Linked DNA regions of Homo sapiens. The protein of the gene in region 1 interacts with the protein of each later gene in a biochemical or structural test. Each region holds a gene or a part of one and is shown in the gene's direction. Other genes may lie near its edges.

Region 1 (2,769 bases):
TATGTGTAAAACCTGTACTACATCAGTTGAAACTCAGACTCACAGTTTAGAGCAGTAGTTCTCAATTGGGGGTGATTTTGCCCCCCAGGGGACATTTGGCCATGTCTGGAGACTTTTTTGCTTGTCACAACTGCAGATGGATGGCATCTAGAGGATACAAGCCAGAGATGCTGCTAAGCAAACTACACAGCACAAGACAGCCCTCAACACCATAGAATTATGTGGCCCAAAATGTCAGTAGTGCTCAGGTTGAGAAGCCCTGCTTTAGAGGATAGTATTCTCTGGTTATCTTCATTAACCAGATATTAACCAGATATTGGTTATCTTCATTAACCAATAATGATTGTTCATTAACAATCAGCACTGAGAATTGGTTCCAAGCTAACAGAGATCAAAAGGACATGAAGAAGGTATAGGTCTTGACTATAATAAATTCAAATGATTTTTTTTTTAGTTTTTTTAGATAACATTTATGCTATTGCTGTTTCTCTAGTGTGTTTTTCACAATTACCATTTTAATTGGTATTTCCACCTTATGTGAAATCACTAAACTGTTCTTTGGCTCAAACTGTCTTCCTCTTGTTTTTCAGGAACAATACCAGTTCATCTATAAAGCAATGCTTAGCTTGGTCAGCACTAAAGAAAATGGAAATGGTCCCATGACAGTAGACAAAAATGGTGCTGTTCTTATTGCAGATGAATCAGACCCTGCTGAGAGCATGGAGTCCCTAGTGTGACTGGAATCCTGAAAGGGCACTTAATTTGTAAACTTCTGAAGACTGAGAACTTTTTTGAGGCCTTTTTTGCCAGACTCTAGGTTATACAATAACCCAGTTACTTTTTTACACTGATAAAAGTTTTGATATTTATTTTTTGCCATTTTATGTCTTAATGGTATCCTACTGAGCATTTGCACCTCTGTTCATTTCACACAGTGAAACGCAATTTTACCTAGTTTGCACTATATGATCAGTGTTACTGCCTATAATCTTATACAACAGCAAACCCTGATGTGACATTCCATGACGACATACATGCTACTTTTTTTTAGTTCAATACAGTGAAGGTCTTTGTTATGACAGTGAATATTGCTTTTATTATTATTATTGCTGAAGTGGTTGCATTCTACTAGCAGGCAATGCTGTACTTTTCTTCAGTCCTCCTCTCCTTTTTATTTTAGGCACTGTTCAATACTGTATGCCTTCTGTATTTTAATGGAGTGGATAGCATTGTTTTCTTTTACAGACTAGCAGGCTACTGGGACCTAAAAAGGTCTGTTAATGTCATGGCCTTGAAACAGTTCCATTTATGCTGGTTAAGAGATCCCTTAAGAAGTTAGAAGGCTTAAGAACTGCTTCATGTGAACATCCCTTATTAGTTACAAAGTTATATTCACAGTTTTTTAAAAATGTGTCAAAATAAAGGATAACTCTGTATTACAGCTTTCACAGTAGCTATGTGGACAATGTGTTATTTCCATTTTGACTCTCTAAAATAGCTACATCCTAAAATCAGGGCTATCTTTAACAATAGCAAGATAGCAATATTATATACAACTCAGTTATGAGACCCTTTAGTTATTCTCCATTAATGCTTCTTAGTTTGTAATACCATACCTCACAGTAGGTAGAAGAATGAAAACTTCTGCAGGTGTGTAATTTTGAAACTAGTCCTCTAAAAATTCCCTATTACTCCTATAGCAATCTAATAAAAACTACCTACATAGTTACTGTTTTCTTTCCTTCTTTGCCAAATGTTTTATAATAAATCTCTTAATTACATACATTTTTCTACTTAAGATTAAATTGGAAATACTGTCTTAGCAAAAGTCTTGGGACTATCTAAACTCCCACACATAGATAAATCTGATTTGGAGAGAGAAATTTAAAATATTTAATTAAAGGTGATACCCACATTTTCAAGTTTTTAAAAGAGGGAGATGGCTTTGTATGCTTTTGTGTAGTTTAGAACAGATACACATTAGTAAAAGATACCAATAATCATTAGAGCTCAAGGAAGTTATTAGGTGCAGCCTCTGGAGCCATACTCACGCTGCAGTGCATAATGGGAAAATTAGGAGCATTAATAAGAAATTTCAGTAGTGTTTGTAAGGAAAATAAGCTACTTACTGAGATCTGTTTCTTCTATTGCATGTTTGCTTTTGAGGGACAGCTTCTGTCAAAAGTGAAATCATCACCAGAACTGGGCCTGTTAGGAAGAATAGGGTTTTATTTACTTTTTATGTCAATTAACTTCAACAAAAAGGCCACGCTGGCTGCTGTCATGCCATCTGGGTATGCATTAAACATTAATGATGATCAGCACTGAGGTTCTATTTATCTTGATTTGGCTTTCATAAAGTTTGTCAGAATGGTGCTGGAGGACCAGAAGTGCTAAGGAGAAAGAAGCTATGGGCCAAGTTAAAGAATTTGAATGCAAAGGCCAGGTCAATGGAGTTTTCATAAACTACATAATTTACCAGGGTTTATCTCATCTTCTCAATACATAGATTTAACAACATGGAATACTCTGCTTTTCAAGAGCTGCGTAAGCTAGTCCTGAGATAAGATGTTCAAGAGAGCATGCTAAGTTGCATGTGCTAGATGAGAGACACCTTTACAGCCCCTCCGCTCCAACCAGAGGTGACACAGGAAGCTCTGTAAAGTTCAAGTAAAGCTTGAACACAGGAACACTACAACTGCCAGATGCTGAGGAGAATCAGGAAAGCAATGAGCTAGACTCTTTTTTTAGTCAATTAAGTGGGTTGTT
Region 2 (2,243 bases), on another chromosome or scaffold:
GAGGGAGCCCATGCAGGGTGTGGAGCAGGAGGCGAGGCCAGACCCAAGGTTGAGTGTGGAGGAGGATAGGCACAGAGGAGCCCAAGAAGGCCAGGGAGGAGCCTATCTCTTTGCTCCCAGACATGGCATAGGCTCAGTGCTGGTCTTGGGGACACAGGCTAGGGAGATACCAGCATCTGGGGCCCAGGCTGTGGGAGACGAGGCTCTAACTGCTGGATGGAACACTGGGGGAATCAATGGAGGGAATCATTAATGCTCAGAGATGAGTCTGGAAGACTTCCCCTAGGAGGGACCATCTGTTCCTTCTCCCCTCCAGGCCTTTGTACTTCCAGTTCCCTCTGCCTGGGGCATTGGGCCTCCCTCCCTCCATAGAAAGATGGAGACAGACACACAAACTCTACCCCTCCCTGCCTCAGCTCCCTTCGAATGGCTTCAGGACTTGAGTCTCAATTTAGGTGTCCCTTCCTCTAGGAAGCCTTCCCTGGCTTTTTCCATTCCCACCCGTGGTGCCTGCCAGGTGCCCCTCACACTGCACTGCCATGACCTGCTTATCTGCATCATACTCTGCACTGTAGCCCCAGTGCTTGGCACACTGGAAATGTTTAACAAATGCCTCAACTAAACAAATGAGGAGAAGATTGGCTAGTAGGAAAGGGCATTTTTGGCAAAGTGATCAGTTCAGGCAAAGGTTCAGGAGAAGGAACATTGGGGAATATGGATGAGTGACTAGGACTGACCCGAGTGCTCGCTCTGGGGAGAAGGCGGGCATCCTGGACACCTTCGAAAGGAAGGAAGACCCCGTAGGAATGGCTGGACACTGAGGGCAGAGGGGAGAGAGACAGGACAATCAAGGACTCCCTGGTTTCAGGGTCTGCCTGGGTGGGAAGGGTCCCTTCCCTGAGGCAGGGGCAGGCTTGGGGAAAGACACCGAGCTCCAATTGGCAAGGGCTGAGTCTGACATGCCTATGGCAAGGGATGTAGGGGCCAGTGGGCATCTGGAGTTCAAGGAGCTGCCAGAGAGGAAGGCATGGATGTGGGAACCATGGGCTGTCTCTGGTGGGAGCCCTGGAGGTGGGCACACCTGTTCCGCTCCTCCATCCCACCCCTCTGGACAGCTGCCTCTACTGTTCTCTCAATCCTCCACTTCCAGGTCCCCAGTCTCCTCTCCCATCACACGCGGCTGCTGGGGATCGCCTTCCTCAGGCTCCTGGGAGTTCTATCCTCCCAGCCTATCCCCTCTCCTTTTCTTGTTCACAGATCCCATGGACCTGATGCCAAGCTGCTGGCTGGTGGGGAGGATGTGGCTCCAGGCCCCCTGGGTCTGGGGCAGCTGCTGGCCGTGGCTAGCCAGGTCGCTGCGGGGATGGTGTACCTGGCGGGTCTGCATTTTGTGCACCGGGACCTGGCCACACGCAACTGTCTAGTGGGCCAGGGACTGGTGGTCAAGATTGGTGATTTTGGCATGAGCAGGGATATCTACAGCACCGACTATTACCGTGTAAGGGTCCTTTGTCCCCAACGCCTTCCCCTGCATCCAAACTGTAGACACCCTGGATCCCAAGACCACTGAGAGCCTGCCCTTGCTAGGATGGCTGCATGGGTCTGAGATTCACTGGCTCTGGTTTTCAACCTACCTCCTCGGCTCCTGGTGGAGGGGGCTCTGTCTCCTTCGCTATCCCAGATGGAAACAGCACCTTCGGTTTTTGCCTCTTAGACCTGAGAGCCACCACTGTTTGTTTATTTATTTATTTAATTTATTTTTTTGAGACGGCGTCTCACTCTGTTGCTAGGCTGGAGTGCAGTGGCACGATCTCGGCTCACTGCAACCTCTGACTCCCTGGTTCAAGCGATTCTCCTGCTTCAGCCTCCCGAGTAGCTGGGATTACAGGCCACACGCCATCACGCCCAACTAATTTTTGTATTTTTAGTAGAGATGGGGTTTCACCATGTTGGCCAGGATGGTCTCGATCTCCTGACCTCGTGATTGCCCACCTCGGCCTCCCAAAGTGCTGGGATTACAGGCGTGAACCACCGAGCTTGTGTATTTATTTTTAATGATGGGGCTGGGGTAGGCTGTGCCTTGACGGGCTGTCCCAGGCGCCCCTGGAATTGATGCAGTGTCCGCCCGTGGCAGGTGGGAGGCCGCACCATGCTGCCCATTCGCTGGATGCCGCCCGAGAGCATCCTGTACCGTAAGTTCACCACCGAGAGCGACGTGTGGAGCTTCGGCGTGGTGCTCTGGG
Region 3 (2,564 bases), on another chromosome or scaffold:
TCTCCCTGGGGCTGGCGACAGTGGACATCCAGAACCCTGACATCACGAGTTCACGATACCGTGGGCTCCCAGCACCTGGACCTAGCCCAGCTGATAAGAAACGCTCAGGGAAGAAGAAGATCAGCAAAGCTGATATTGGTGCACCCAGTGGATTCAAGTGAGAGCCACTCCCCAGTGGACCCACAGATTCCTGGGGGCAGAGGGGCACATGAACAAGTGGACAGCTGAGTGAATGGAAGGATGGGCAGATGGGCAGATGGCTGGGTGGCTGAGTGGGTAAATGGGTGGTTGGATAGGTAGGTGCAGGGCTGGGTCTAGGGAGAGGTAAATAAGGCACCAAGGGTACAAAATTTAAGGAGGCACTCACTCTCAGAGGCATGCAACTGTAATTCCTGACTCTCAGAGTGAGTGACTCACTTAAATTTTGCACCCTAGGCACCTTACTTGCCTCACCCTGGGCCCACTCTGGGTGGGCTGTTAGGAGAGCAGGTGGGTGGGCAGGTGAACAAATGGATAGATAGATGAGGTAGATGATGGATGAGAAGGGCTGGTGGGTAGGTGGGTGAGTGGATGGGTGGATGGATGGATAAATGAATGGATGAATGAATGGGTTGAAGAATGAATGGATAAGTGGTTGGATGGACAAGTTTATGGGTGGATGGGTTGATGGGAGGTGCGTGGATAGATAGATGGGTGAGTGGATAGGTGTGTGGACAGATTGATATGCAGGCTGATTGGCTCACAGACAAGGTGGATGGGGATGGACAGGTGGACAGATACGTGGATGAATGGACAGTTCAATGGATAAGTGAACAGAAGTGTGTGGTTGCATGGGTAGAAAAATGAGTGGATGGATAGATGGAAAGGTGGGCACATGGGTAGGTGGATGGGTGGATGGACAAGTGTGTGTGAGGACAGACTGGTGGACAAATGGGTGAACAGACATATGTGGGCAGATAGTTGCAGAGACAGATGTATGGACAGATCAGTAGTCCAACAGATGAATGTGAATGAATAGGTGGACAAATGCATGGGATAGATGGGGAAAGAGGGATGGGTGGATGGATCAGCACCACAAACTATGGAGCCCTTCTAATTCCATAACTCCTGCCTATACTCATTCACTCATTCAGTCTCATTCATTAATTCTGGCCCCTCAGAGTCTCTTTGGGCAGGAGAGGGCAAGAGGGTTTCACTATGAAGGGAGGGAAGGAAGGGCAGTGAGGATTCACTGGAGTCTCTTCACCTCTCCCAGGCATGTCAGCCACGTGGGGTGGGACCCCCAGAATGGATTTGACGTGAGTAACTTCAGAGTCTCTTGGACTCCACTAAACTTCCACCCACCCTTCCAAAGACCACTGCTGAGACCCCACCCCCAGATCGTGCCCTTCCCACACCCCTCTCAGATCCCTTGCTGGGATGGACCCAACGACAATCCATGTCGCTTGTCTCCTCGCCTTATTCCTCTACTCCTGCCCCTGGCCTTTTTCCTCCTGGGCAGGTGAACAACCTCGACCCAGATCTGCGGAGTCTGTTCTCCAGGGCAGGAATCAGCGAGGCCCAGCTCACCGACGCCGAGACCTCTAAACTTATCTACGACTTCATTGAGGACCAGGGTGGGCTGGAGGCTGTGCGGCAGGAGATGAGGCGCCAGGGTGAGACCCTGCTTCCATACGCTCCCTTCTCTAGCCCAAGCAGCTCATAGCTAAGATACGCACTAAGTCACTCAGTCCTTATGGGAGCACCTATACTGCTTCAGTCAGGAGTTGGTCAGTGGGGGTACCCATTTTACAAATGAGCAAAACTGAGGCTCAGAAGAAATCAATGAGAGTTACAGCTATGTGTTATACCCCCTCCACAGAGCCACTTCCGCCGCCCCCACCGCCATCTCGAGGAGGGAACCAGCTCCCCCGGCCCCCTATTGTGGGGGGTAACAAGGGTCGTTCTGGTCCACTGCCCCCTGTACCTTTGGGGATTGCCCCACCCCCACCAACACCCCGGGGACCCCCACCCCCAGGCCGAGGGGGCCCTCCACCACCACCCCCTCCAGCTACTGGACGTTCTGGACCACTGCCCCCTCCACCCCCTGGAGCTGGTGGGCCACCCATGCCACCACCACCGCCACCACCGCCACCGCCGCCCAGCTCCGGGAATGGACCAGCCCCTCCCCCACTCCCTCCTGCTCTGGTGCCTGCCGGGGGCCTGGCCCCTGGTGGGGGTCGGGGAGCGCTTTTGGATCAAATCCGGCAGGGAATTCAGCTGAACAAGGTGAGGACAGGCAGGATGGAGGATTGGGGGTCTAGGACTCTGGGGTGTCCCGTCTAAGTCAGGATACTGGGGGGCTGAGGCCAGGACTGAGGAGAGTGCCAGGCCTTAGGGATTCAGTGATAGGGTTGAAAGGTTGGTGGGAAGCCTTGAAGGGGACTGGAGTGTGTGGGAGAGAAAATATTGATGGAGGGGCGGGGAGAAATGCTCCTTTCCCAGGCCCTAAGCCCTCTGTGCTGATCCCTGCCTGCTGCAGACCCCTGGGGCCCCAGAGAGCTCAGCGCTGCAGCCACCACCTC
Region 4 (2,325 bases), on another chromosome or scaffold:
ATTAATGTGCTGAACGCTTTTTTTTTTTTTTTTTTTTTTTTTGCAACAACACCTTGGACCTCTGTGTTGGGGTTTGACTGACCTCAAGCTGATATTATTGGACCTTGTGCAGCTTTGATAACCCATGTGAGAGTCTAGGCAGGACCAGTGGGGCCCAAATCTTGCTGCTCTTGTACTTTTAGGCACTGCCCTTGCAGACTCACCTTTCTCCACCTGCCCTGGAGAAAGGTAGGGTGTGCTGGGCCTGCCCCTTGCAAATGGGATTCACCAGTTTCATTTATTTGACTCTACTGCCACAGTGAAAAGAGCAAACAGCTATTGGGTTGCAAACCTCCTTTGACATTAGGAAATGTTGACTTTGTAACAATAAAACTTTGGTCCTAGAAAGACACGGTTGTCCTGGGAGTTTGTAGTGTTAAGTTGCAACAACAACAACAAAAAGCAACAAAACCAGCTTAGGATAACACTTTTTGTTGCTTGTTCTTAAAGATGTCTCACTATGATTAAAACCCTTTTCATTAATGTAGTGAAAGCCACACAGGAGTTCCTTCTTCCAGGAGGAGAATACCAAGCACATCACTTTCTCTCTGCATCAGTGATGTCAAATACGCATCAGAAAATGTTCAGGTTTTAGGAGCTGTCCTAGGTGCTGTTTCATCATTGGAAGCAGTGAGAAAGAGAAGCACTGCTGCTTGTCTGGATATAGGCTGAGGATGATTGAGAGAAGCTGTGGGAACTGACACAAGGGTCTGCATAGGTCATCCTGTGACCCTGGGGACTATGTTACCAACTGACAGACAGATCTTTCACTGTATCCTAGCAGGGCAGGTAGTCCACCAAGAAATGTGCTTATTGGATTGGGAGGTGTTTATTTGTAGTCTGCTGTAACACGTGTGAAAGAGCAGGAGCGTCATCAGCATATGACTTGCGCTGGTCATCCGGTAAATGGATGTGCTGTAGTCCCAGTGCTAATCATTTCTCTCCTTCACAGTGGGTGGAAGTTTAGGGTTAAATGTCCTTTGAATGTCACCTGGTGAGTCCTTGACACCTTAGGCTCTTCAGAAACAATGGTTTTGTTGAGGATGGGGAACAGGGAATGCCGATTTTATATACATGGTACACAGAGAGGGGTGTCACTTCAGAAAATCTTCCAGCATGTTCTTCAGAATATTAATTTATATGCGAGGTGAGGTTGGGAATGAAAAGAACAGGTCAGCACTTTTTTTTTTCCTAGAACATACAAAAGAACATGGTGGACTTTCAGGGAGTGCAATGGAAGGTGAATATTTCCTTAAGGGTCCCCGAGAAATGGGAGTGAGGGGAGGGGACACAATGGCTTTTTGAGCTTACTTTTACCTTCTGATACTAGTCAAGGTCCAGAACCAGCCACCAGCCAAATTTCTATCTGGGTGCGGGCCACTGAAAATCCTTGTTAAAAACCAGATCACAAATCTGGGGCTCTTGGTCCCATTGGAGAAGGAAGGAAGAGCCTCAAAATAAGTGTGCACCCATGCACATATTCAGGAACAGCTTGTTTAGTCTTTACACTTTGCCTGAAAGTTGCTTCTCCTCGTCCCTTTGTGTGCCTGGGTGGCCTCGGCCCTGTGCGTTGGCAACGCAGGATCAAATGTGCTGCAGCTTTTGCAGAAAACAACTCAGAAACACAAAACCCCCCAACAGCTCAATTATTATTTTTTCAATGTTTTCCTACAAGAGCCAAGTAGCACCATGTACAGAAGACGCCTTTTTTTTTGGAATATTGAAATCGTTCTGCATGTAAAATATGGGATAATGACCTGTTTATATTAAAATTCTGATTAAATTATCTGAGAATACGCTTGTTTTTGTGTGGTGTCCCGGTAAGGACCTGTCGTGTGGTCGGGGGATGTGGCTATGAGTTGGGCTGTGTTAAGGAAAACCTCTTGGAATATGTAGGTGCCTTTTTTTAGAGGAGAAAAACACCTAGATTCTTCCACACATGAAAAGGGAGGTTAAATAGTTGCTACCAGCAGAGTTGATGACTCGTAGGGACATACTTGTATGGCCAAACTGGTGGTTTAAATATTGCACTATTTCCATACCATTTGGTAAGTAAGCGCTTCCCCAAGGGCTCCCAGACCTCCCCATGGTCCAACCACTAAAGGGTTCACTCCGAGAATACCAATGAACCTTCAAGATCTTGCTCTATTCTGACATGCGGGAAACTCATATGTTAAGTATTTTCAATGTCATCCTGGGAGTGGAGACCTGTCCCAGGTTGGGTGGACAGGTGAGTGACCATGGGTTAGACCATGGGATTGAAAGCCTTTTGAATAGTCTTTCTTG
Region 5 (3,500 bases), on another chromosome or scaffold:
TAAGGACATGCCTGGGAGACAGGTATGTTCCTTTCTCCAAAGATGATTTTGAGGGCTTTAATATTTAAAGTAGGCTGAAGAGCAAAGAGGGAAGGTATGGTAATCCACATGTTGCCAGAGGAAAGGAGCAGGCAAGGGAATAGTCAATTACGTATTTTCTTTTGCTTAGTAAGTTGGGACTTTACATAAGATAAGGTGAACATAGAGTAATTACCTGTGGAGATATTTAACCTGTTATCTGTAGCTATCTGCTTGGGAACAAAAGGAAAAGCAGTTTATTGCATGACTCAGCTTGCAGCTTAATTTTTTCTCTTGACATGGTGGATTGGGGTCCCAAGTTTTTGTTTTGTTTTTAGTGTCAACAGCCTAAAATAGGCAATAGGAAAGAAAATACTGTATGAGAGATGTCATAGTGTTAGACTGTGGAGTTTGGCAATCTATTGTATATGAAAGTTGACAGCAGAGAGAGTTTAAAACTATTATTAAAATTTTAGCCTGGGCTGGGGCACAATGTCTCACACCTATAATCCCAGCACTTTCGGAGGCTGAGGCAGGAGAATCACTTGATCCCAGGAGTTCAAGTCTCCAGTCAGCCATGATCACACCACTGTGACAGCCTGAGGGACAGAGCAAGACTCTGTCTCAAAAAAAAAAAAAAAAAAAAAAGTTTGAAGGAATGATAGTGGCAATAAGAAGCAAGGTATGTATTCTGATTTTTGTGGGAAGTAATAAAGAGGTTTTGGATATGTTGAATTAGGGTCTAGCAGAGTATACAGGTGTAGGCATCCAGCAAGAAACTGGCAAATCCAGAAGTACAAGTAGGGATACAAATTTGGGAGTTATCTTACAGATTATGGTTGAAACTGTTAAAGCTCACAGTGGGAGAGAAAGAAAGAAGATAGAGGATTGATACTGAAAAACCTTGACTCACCTTAAGGAGAAAGAAAGGGAAGAGGAAATCCGGAAAGGAATAATTTAAGAACAAAGAATGCTAAGTGTTCATATGCCAAGATAGGAGAAAATTACAAAAGGGAGGAGGTGGTCTGAAGACAAAAACGGCTATAGGATTTGGTGATTGGAAGTTATTGGTGACCTTTAGAAAAACATGTTCTTCCCTTCTACCTCATACATTGTGAGATTACAGGGGAATAGAGAATGAATGCTGAAGAAATAGAGGTAGTGCATGCAAACAGTTCTTAGAACAAATTTAGCAGTCAAAGAAAGAGGAAAGAAGATGGGAGGAGAGTGATAATGCGTTCCAAGAAATAGTTGTATTGTTTTCTTTATAGAGGTGTATAATTTTAGTTGAGAGAAGGAGCAGAGAAAGATAATAGTTAAGTAATCAAGAAGACAGAGTGTCTGTGAGTTTTGTAAGGAGGTTAGAAGAAGTATGATCAAGATCATCAGTGGATGGTTTCACCTTGAAAAGGAAATAGATCTAATTCAGAGACTAGGGGAAAGGAGTAGTGAGAAGATATAAAGAAACTTTGAGGGAGAAGGAAAGAAAATGTAGAAAGCATTTATCAGAAGTCCTCAGTGTTCTCACAAAAGATAAAGGAATCAGCTAGGGAGAGAGGTAGAAATGGGGTTGGAGACGGTGGTGGAAAAAGGTCTGGAACAGCTATCACTGCGTGTTTATTAAGGAGTTCAGCAAATGAGTAGAAGCGGTTTTAAGGATGAGCTGGAGTCAGCTAGTATGGGTCTATGGTGGAGAATGAGAATATACCTTTCTCCCAGAATATTCAACTTAATGATGGCAAGAAAAGGATTGCAGAATATGGCCCAGGACTGGAAAGATGGCAGAAGATCTTGGGGACAAAGGATTCTAATGATTTACCAAGTGCTTTGTTGAAATTACAACAGGAACTCCTAGATGGGCAAGGATGCAAGTAAAGTCTAAAAAGGTTACAAGGAGGAAATTCAGTAGATGAATAGAAAGTATGAAAAGAGTGGAAATTGTTGTCAGGTTTTTAAGAGTTTGAGATATTGGAGCTGAAGCATGTCTAATATTGAAGTCTAAGTTTACGTCAATTGGTGACTGAAGTGGAATGGAGTTGGAAACTATTGGTTTACAAAGGTAGACTGTCTATAGGGCAGAAGTGTTGGTAGATTCATTCACCAACTGTATTGGCAAGAGAGAGAGTAGAGGGAAGATTATGAGTGCCTTGGAGAAGGAAGATTGCGACAAGGAAAATGAGAGAGTTGAGTAAGGGAGTGACTTGAGCATTAGCTGAGCAGAGGATAGTTGGTGAGTCAAGATGGAAGAATAACAGTGCAGAAGGAACAGTGAAATGCAAGGACACTTTGATCTTTCTTTCATTATTTACAAATCCTAGCCCTAGCTCCAGCACAAATCTCACTGAGCTTCAAGTTTCTTTATCTGTGGAAACGAGATAAAAATAATGTCTACCTCATAGGGTTATCATGAGAATTAAAAGAGATAATGTATGTAAAGTACAGAACCTATCAAAAGAAATATATCAGATGTTCTTATTGCTGCTACTGTTAACGATGACATTGACAAGTATAAAAGATATGTAATCTTGCACTAAGTGGGCTGTGCTGTGTCACTGAATACAGCATAGGATAGATAGATTATTACTTGTGGCCGATGTCACTCCTAACTGCAAAAAGTATTAATACAAGTATTCCTTCACATCTCTCACCTCTAAGTGGTAGGAGTGACCTACACTGAAATTTTTTTAAGGATTTATATCATCACAGGAATATGGTTTTTACTAAGTTTTGATTAAAAAATGACTAATTTACTAATTTGGATATAATGGATAGGAGTATCCGTGGAATCACAGGAAGTTGTTCACTATGAAAAGCCCAATAGAATGGGCTAGTATAGATTTATATGACATCAAAATAAATTGGTGGAGAGTTTCATAGAGTTATATTTCTACAGTTGCAGCTGGCAATGCCAGGGCTTAGGAATATAAAGGTTAGGGTGGTAACCTGGAAGACCATGCTATCTTTAAGGAAGCAGGTTAACACTCATGGAAGAAATGCTAATACGGTAACAGATTCCCAAGTGTCAAAACGAGACAGGCATAGAAGCTAAGAGGAAGGAGAGACCACTTTTTATTTTACATAGGTTCTCTTCAGATGGCCTGTGGAACTTCAGTTCTAGGAAAACATAGTTTTGAAAATGAAAAAAGTTCTAAGTTCTGAGCTCTAAGTAACTTTGCCCATACTCCTAGTCCTTGCAATTTGCTCTGAAGGAGTTTGTTATTTAAAGTTTGGCCATTTGAAAATAAATTGTTGACTTCTAATAGCCTTCTTCCTTTCTTACTACTCTTTGGTGTTTTGACAGGTAAATGGCCAAGACCTAAAGAACCTGCTGCACCAGGATGCTGTAGACCTCTTTCGTAATGCAGGCTATGCTGTGTCTCTGAGAGTGCAGCACAGGGTAGGTATCACTTTGAGCCAGAAACCTGGCACCAGGCTTTTGCACTGTACTTCTGAATAAGCCCAATGTGTGTAATCTTCAGTGT
Region 6 (3,500 bases), on another chromosome or scaffold:
TGCCTCCTGGGTTCAAGCGATTCTCCTACCTCAGCCTCCTGAGTAGCTGGGATTACAGGTGCCTGCCACCACGGCCAGCTAAATTTTGTATTTTTAGTAGAGATGGGGTTTCACCATGTTGGCCAGGCTGGTCTCAAACTCCTGACCTTGTGATCCATCCACCTTGGCCTCCCAAAGTGCTGGGATTACAGGTGTGAGCCACCGCACCTGGCCTACTCTTTTTTCTTATGGTAAATGAAGCATTAATCTTTTTCCTCAGAATTATTTTACAGTTGGTTTTAACTTACTGTTGTTAAATTAATACTGACAGCATTATGTATCGCAGATCTAGTTATCCATACTAAATATGTTTAGTTTACACACACAAACACTGATAGTATCTTACTGTGAAATGCTAACAACTCTGTAGAGCAGCACTTTTCAACTATTTTGTGCCTTGAGACCAGTACAGCCGATATTCACATGCATAGCAGAACTTCCATAAGGAATTCTTTTTATGATCACTGAAACCCAGTCTTTCTTGCCCTTCAAAAAAACGTGTTGGTATTTAGTTAATGACAATGATTTTATCATAATCATACACAGAATTCTGCTGTATTTATTAAGTAAATTATTAACAAACTTTGGTGACTTATTAGTACTAAATCATTTTGTGCATATTCTTTTAATGTCACATTAAAAACATGGAACAAAGAAAAAATAATTTATATCATCTTGAAGTACAAATTTTCTAGTAACTTTTTTTTTTTTTTAAATTTTGTGAGATGGGGTCTCACTCTGTCGCTCAGGATGGAGTGCAGTGGTGCAACGTTGGCTCACTGCAGCGTCCACCTTTCAGGCTCAAGTGATCCTCCCACCTCAGCCTTCCAAGTAGCTGAGACCACAGGCATGCCACCATGCCTGGTTAATTGTTAAGGTTTTGCCTTGTTGCCCTGGCTGGTTCTAGTAACTTTTAACCACATTTAAAGTAATCATTTTGTGAAAAGAAACTCTAATTAGAAGAAATATTTTTGTCCATTTATCTCATCTAAAAGCTAACATTTAATAGTATCTGAGTTCAGTGACTTTGCATGCAAGACATAGATTGACATTAATCTCATAAATTTTTTTTTAGATTTATTTGAATTAAGTATATGACTAAAGGAGTTCACATTAATTCCTTTAAAAATTTTTTTTACTGGTTTTTCCCTTGAGGATACCTGTTCTTTTCAGAGTTTTCATATTTTTTTTATATCTGAGAGACATCAAGAAGTTCGTGAGTATTAGTTTTATCACTAATTTGAGATTCATGCAAAAGCTACTTATGTTCACTAATTTTCCTGAATTCTCACTGTAGTGAATATAATGAAAAATCAATGTACTCTTTTCCCAATATGAAGGGTCCAACAGATACAATTGCTAGGACGAGATATGAAGGGACCTGCTCATGATAAGCTTTGGAACCAATTAGAAGCTGAAATACATTTGCATCGTCACAAAACTGTGATCCGAGCCTGCAGAGGACGTAATGACTTGAAACGACCAATGCAAGCACCACCAGGCCATGTATGTTTGCTTTGCTGCTGCTTCCCACCCAGCCTCTTCTTTCTTTCTTTAATCACAGTTGCTTTCCATTCTTTCCTTTATTCTAGTATTGTTTGAAACCTTTATTTAAAAGTGAAAATGGGATTCAACTTATTCAAAGTAGATGAAGTTTCAACACCCATAGAAATTTTAGTAGCTCTTCACAGACTTACTAATGCCCTGAGAGTGCTGCAGACAGTGAGCCATTGTTAGCAAATGCATATTGCTATAATGTTGGATCATATTTCCAGTTTTTCCTGGATCATGATTGGGCATGCTTGAATTTGTTTTAATCTTAGCTTAGAGTGTGTGGTCATATTGATAATTTGGCAGATATTTTGGGGTAGTTCTTTAAGGGAACTTTTAGTAACTGAATCCAAATGTAGATTCTGAACTAACATTTACACCTGTTTGGTCTTGGATTAAGATAGAATTTGAGATCTGTAGCCAGTTGTCTGCTTCTGTAGCCACCATTATATAAAAGCTTCTATCTGGATAAATCTTTATTGAATTTTATCATAACAGCTGCTTGATAATATAGACCTTAATATATGAAAGCATGTCTCCCAAGGGTTCACATATCTTAGTACCAGATAATGTATGGCCTTAAATAGTAAAATAGTTTGTTGGCTCTGCAAAGATTTTTGTAAGAAGAATTGGTATGTAAATAGAGTTGGTGGAAGAGAAGTGGGGATAGCGATAAGCACTTATGCCATTGTTTTCTAGGGCACTGGTGGTTCCCATTAACTTCTAGGTCCAGTAGATTTGGGAAATGGAGCGGTTAGGAGGAAGACAAAGTAGTTTGTATCAGATGTGTCTGAGTGATAAAAGCATGCTTGTTAAATTAGCTAAATATGAGGTTGGGGTTTTAGGTAGTGGCTGGATTATAGAAATTATTTTATACTAAATAGAGGAATTTTAACTTTAACCTGATAATCATGGAAGTTTTAAATAAAATGGCAGACTTCATAAAATTTACATTTTTTAATAGTTATTTTGGTATAGTGAAGAGGACCAAGTTGGAGTCAAGGAGATATATTAGAAAGATACTATGGTCATCCAAGGAGAAAGTGATGAGGTCAGGAGAAGTGGCATTTGAGAAGAAGGATAGATTTGAGAGGATTATAATCAGGAGGGCTTGATTGGTGACTAACTGCTTTTGGTTAAATAGTGAAAAAGAAGAGTCTGGGCTTTTAGTTTGAGCAACTGAGTGAGATCTGGCATTCACTGGGAAGGGAAATAGAAGAAAAGGAAGGATTTGGGGAAAAGATGATGAGATCAGTTTTAGACAAGTAGTGTTTGAGGTGACAATGGGGTATCCAAGATACATCCAACTGGACATATGACTCTGGATTTCAGAAGAGAAATCTGTTTTGAAGAAATATTAGGGAAACTATCCTTCTATTATACTTGAAACCTTGGAACTCATTAAGCCTGTTCCAAGTATATATGTATATATAAAGTATATATGTAGTAAAAAGAATAGGAGGCCAAGGATAGAAACTTATGGAGTGGGAGAAGGAAAAGGATCACTAAAGGAAGGAGCCTGGGATGGAGCTGTCAGATACAGGCCATCTAGGAAAGTAGTGTAATAAAAACTAACAGAGAGAGTGGGTTTCAAGGAGGGGTTGATGAACAGTATCAACTTTCTGCAAGTTTGAAGTAGGATAGTGACAAAAAGTGTTAATTGTGTGTAACAATATTGATTACTGGTGACCACAGAAAAGAAAATTCCAGTTGTGCATGTAGGGGCAAAACTCTAATTACAGAGACCAGAGGACTGAATGTGAGTGGCAAGGAAGTAGATATGATGAGGATGAACTTCGTGTAGAGGTTAAGGAAAGGGGGAGGATGGTAGTTGCTAAGGAAGATAGTGAAGGATTGAAAGGTTTTTTGTTTTGTTTTGCATTTGCACATGATCAGTATTTTAAAACTGG
Region 7 (3,500 bases), on another chromosome or scaffold:
AACTCCTCAAGAGGCTGAGGCGGGAGGATCACTTGAGCCCAGGAGTTCAAGGCTGCAGTGAGCTATTTCGAACCACTGCACTCTAGCCTATAAGCAACAGAGTAAGACCCTGTCTTAAAAAAGAAAAAGAAAGAAGGCAGATGCCTGATTCTGAGGAAGTCCCCGAGTTAGCAAGTGGTTATTGGATAAATGATCAAGTGCAACGCGTTGTACCAGCGTTGGCACAGCTGGGAAGACAGTTGCTCTGCAGCTCAGAAGGCAGGAGCCCTGGGAGGCCCTCCTGTGATCTCAGGGCTTGCTGGGTGCGCGAGACGCTCCATGACTGTGGCTCTGGGCCCTAGAGAAACCCCTCCACCCTTTGAGTTAATGGTGTTCAGTGGCTCCCAGCTGGGACCCCTGGTGACCATTCCAAGGTGAGCTGGCGTCCAGCCTGTCCTGAGGCCGAGCAGTGCTCCTGCTCACCAGATCTGGCCTTTAGTCATGCTTGGAAGGCAGGGCCGCTCAAGGTCTTCCTGCACTGTGCCCAGAGAGGGAAAGGAGAGTGGCCTGGGACACAGAGCCAGTCTGTCCTAGGACCCTCTCTCCAGCTTGCACCTGGAACCTCGGTGCTGGCTGAAGAGGAATCCTCATACTCCATCCCTCCTCCAGGGCCCAGGACCCTGTCCGGCGTCTCATGGCCCAGCGAGCGACTCTTGCCCTCCCCCTGCTACCACCCGCTGTGTTCGGGGGGTCTGGCCTCCCCCAGCAGCTCTGAGTCCCACCCCTACGCCAGCCTGGACAGCAGCAGGGCACCCTCCCCACAGCCAGGCCCCGGGCCCATCTGCCCCGACAGCCCCCCAAGCCCGGACCCCACCCGCCCGCCCAGCCGCAGGAAGCTCTTCACCTTCTCCCACCCTGTGCGAAGCCGCGATACTGACCGCTTCCTGGACGTGCTGAGCGAGCAGCTGGGCCCCCGGGTCACCATCGTGGATGATTTCCTGACCCCGGAGAACGACTACGAGGAGGTGGGCACGCAAGCAGGTGTGGAGGGAGGCGGGTGAGGCGAGGTGTGGCGGTCTGCAAGGCAACAGTGTTCCTGGGCTCCCGCAAGGGGCCTGCTGCCCTTGGGATCTTCCCCAGGCTATCCCACTCCCTAGCTCAAGCTATCCCACCCCTTGCCCCAGGTTACCCTATCTCCTGTTCAAGGTTATCATGCTCCTTGACTGAGGCTAGCCCATATTCCCTGTCGCAGGTTAGCCCATTCCTTAGCTCAGGCTATCCCACTCACAGCCTGAGGCTAACCCGTGACAGGGTCCTGTCCTTATTCCAGGCTATCCCCCTCACAGCCTGAGGCTTACCCATGAGAGGGTCCTATCCTTAGCCCAGGCTATCCCCCTCACAGCCTGAGGTTAACCTGTGAGACAGTCCTATCCTTAGCCCAGGTGTCCCTCACAGCCTGAGGCTAACCCGTGAGATGGCCCTGTCCTTGTCCCAGGCTATCCCATGATCCTTCACTTTGCACCTGCTCTAGTCTCTCTGGGCCCAGCCTCACCCTCCCCTTGCCTCTCTCCCCACCACCAGATGAGCTTCCATGATGACCAGGGCAGCTTCGTAACCAATGAGCGGAGCAGCGCCAGCGACTGCATCAGCAGCAGTGAAGAAGGCAGCTCCCTGACCTACTCCTCCATCTCTGACCACATCCCCCCACCCCCGCTCAGCCCCCCACCACCGCCACCCCTGCCTTTCCATGACGCTAAGCCCAGCTCCCGCAGCTCTGATGGTTCCCGGGGCCCTGCTCAGGCGCTGGCCAAGCCCCTCACCCAACTCAGCCACCCAGTCCCTCCACCACCCCCACCGCCCCTGCCCCCACCCGTGCCCTGTGCACCCCCCATGCTGTCCCGGGGCCTGGGCCACCGGCGCAGTGAGACCAGCCACATGAGCGTCAAGCGCTTGCGGTGGGAACAGGTGGAGAACTCAGAAGGCACCATCTGGGGTCAGGTAGGTGACCTGGGACCCAGCAGCGCTCTGTACTGGGGGAGGATGGCTTGGGCAGCAGCACTGAAGGAAAACCCATCGGCCAGGCATCTTCCAACATCATCCTCCCTACCCCAAGCAGAGGATGAGTAGAGGCCCAGCCCAAGAACGTCCCCACGCTTGGGGGCCACTGCAGGCATTGAAGCCAATCTGTGTCCCTCAGCCAAAGACACACACTGGGGACACCTGGAAATGCCACCCTACCCATCCTTGAAACCTATCACTTTTGAGGCCAGACAAGTTCTCTTAAACCTTTAAAAGAGCAGCTGGTTCAAACTCCTGCACACCAGCCTTCACCCTTTCACTTTGATGCTTGAAGTTCCTCCCTCACAACACTGGCAGTGTATGCTTGAACACCTTCAGTGGTGGGGAACTCACTACCTGTCAAGGTCTTCCTTTCCTCACTGGACGATTTTAACCATCCTTTGTCTTGCTCTGAAATCTTGTCTCCCCAGGATTCCCATGCCCTGTTTTCTTTCTGGCCCTTAAAATCGGGCAGAGCAATCTTATCCACAGACCAACCAATCTGCAAGATGAACAAGGTTCACCCCACCCCTTTTTTTTTTTTTCAGATCATTCTCTTAGAACATGGTTTCCAACCCCCACTCCAGTGTCCATGTCCCTGTCAAAGAGACATTCCCAGATGGAACCCCCAATGGGGCTTGACCAGCTCAGAGGAGAGAACAGGGTTCTCAGCTCCTTTGACTGGGACATCATACTCCTTTTAATATGGCAGGGGCTCCTTCCAGCTCCCAGGGCTGCCCCGTCCCAGTGCTCATGATCACCATCATCCTCAACTCCATCTTCTTGGGATCAATAGCTCACTCTCACATGTAGTCACACTGGGCAGAGGCATGCTTGTGATTTTTCCCCACTGCCATCTCCTGGGTCCCAATTCTGTCTCCTGCTTTCTCAGCCCACATCTCCAGGGACCCTTTCCAAGTTGCTAATAAAGATGCCCATTGAGGCCAGGCTTGGTGGTTCACGCCTGTAATCCCAGCACTTTGGGAGGCTGAGGCGGGAGGACTGCTTGAGCCTAAGAGTTCAAGACAAGTCTGGGCAACATAGTGAGATCTTGTCTCTACAAAAAAATCAAAAAGTTAGCCAGACCTGGTGGTGCATGCCTGTGGTCCCAGCTACTCGGGAGGCTGAAGAGGGAGAATCACTTGATTCCCACAGGTGGAGGTTGCAGTGAGCCAAGATGGCACCACTGCACTCCAGCCTGGGGTACAGAGTGAGACCCTATCTAAAAAAAAAAAAAAAAAAATACCTCAGTGAGACAAGGGCACAAATAAGGACCTCCTGGGTCCCCTGGAGACCTCACTCCTGCCAGCCTTGGACCGATCTTCAAGTATTGCTCCACAGCGTGGTTCTTCCATTGGTTACCAAAGGTGGACACAGGGACACAGGTCACACATGTGGCCAAACCCAAATCCATCCTCAGTGTCCCTGCCCTGCAGCCATGTTCTAAGACTTCATTCCCCTGC

The links.
Region 2: of the proteins of PTPRG (region 1) and NTRK1, one has a biochemical effect on the other in vitro, tested with the Homo sapiens proteins (one large-scale study listed by IntAct).
Region 3: of the proteins of PTPRG (region 1) and WAS, one has a biochemical effect on the other in vitro, tested with the Homo sapiens proteins (one large-scale study listed by IntAct).
Region 4: of the proteins of PTPRG (region 1) and INSR, one has a biochemical effect on the other in vitro, tested with the Homo sapiens proteins (one large-scale study listed by IntAct).
Region 5: the proteins of PTPRG (region 1) and SYNJ2BP interact in a test that uses a peptide from one of them, tested with the Homo sapiens proteins (one large-scale study listed by IntAct).
Region 6: the proteins of PTPRG (region 1) and GOPC interact in a test that uses a peptide from one of them, tested with the Homo sapiens proteins (one large-scale study listed by IntAct).
Region 7: the proteins of PTPRG (region 1) and GRID2IP interact in a test that uses a peptide from one of them, tested with the Homo sapiens proteins (one large-scale study listed by IntAct).

What each region holds. Positions count from the first base shown.
Region 1 is NC_000003.12:62,292,571-62,295,339, forward strand, and holds part of PTPRG (receptor-type tyrosine-protein phosphatase gamma isoform 1 precursor), read left to right. Parts: intron 1-43; exon of another isoform or gene 44-147; intron 148-590; coding exon 591-737; 3' UTR 738-2,769.
Region 2 is NC_000001.11:156,877,865-156,880,107, forward strand, and holds part of NTRK1 (high affinity nerve growth factor receptor isoform 2 precursor), read left to right. Parts: intron 1-1,257; coding exon 1,258-1,498; intron 1,499-2,134; coding exon 2,135-2,243. UniProt on the Homo sapiens protein: Receptor tyrosine kinase involved in the development and the maturation of the central and peripheral nervous systems through regulation of proliferation, differentiation and survival of sympathetic and nervous neurons.
Region 3 is NC_000023.11:48,686,799-48,689,362, forward strand, and holds part of WAS (actin nucleation-promoting factor WAS), read left to right. Parts: coding exon 1-157; intron 158-1,255; coding exon 1,256-1,298; intron 1,299-1,501; coding exon 1,502-1,655; intron 1,656-1,861; coding exon 1,862-2,268; intron 2,269-2,521; coding exon 2,522-2,564. UniProt on the Homo sapiens protein: Effector protein for Rho-type GTPases that regulates actin filament reorganization via its interaction with the Arp2/3 complex. Important for efficient actin polymerization. Possible regulator of lymphocyte and platelet function.
Region 4 is NC_000019.10:7,111,765-7,114,089, reverse strand, and holds the end of INSR (insulin receptor isoform Long preproprotein), read left to right. Parts: 3' UTR 1-1,825; downstream 1,826-2,325. UniProt on the Homo sapiens protein: Receptor tyrosine kinase which mediates the pleiotropic actions of insulin.
Region 5 is NC_000014.9:70,375,591-70,379,090, reverse strand, and holds part of SYNJ2BP (synaptojanin-2-binding protein), read left to right. Parts: intron 1-3,319; coding exon 3,320-3,415; intron 3,416-3,500. Other genes in the region: SYNJ2BP-COX16 protein, read left to right, coding at 3,320-3,415. UniProt on the Homo sapiens protein: Regulates endocytosis of activin type 2 receptor kinases through the Ral/RALBP1-dependent pathway and may be involved in suppression of activin-induced signal transduction.
Region 6 is NC_000006.12:117,571,512-117,575,011, reverse strand, and holds part of GOPC (Golgi-associated PDZ and coiled-coil motif-containing protein), read left to right. Parts: intron 1-1,379; coding exon 1,380-1,545; intron 1,546-3,500.
Region 7 is NC_000007.14:6,506,462-6,509,961, reverse strand, and holds part of GRID2IP (delphilin), read left to right. Parts: intron 1-648; coding exon 649-1,004; exon of another isoform or gene 1,005-1,056; intron 1,057-1,560; coding exon 1,561-1,977; intron 1,978-3,500.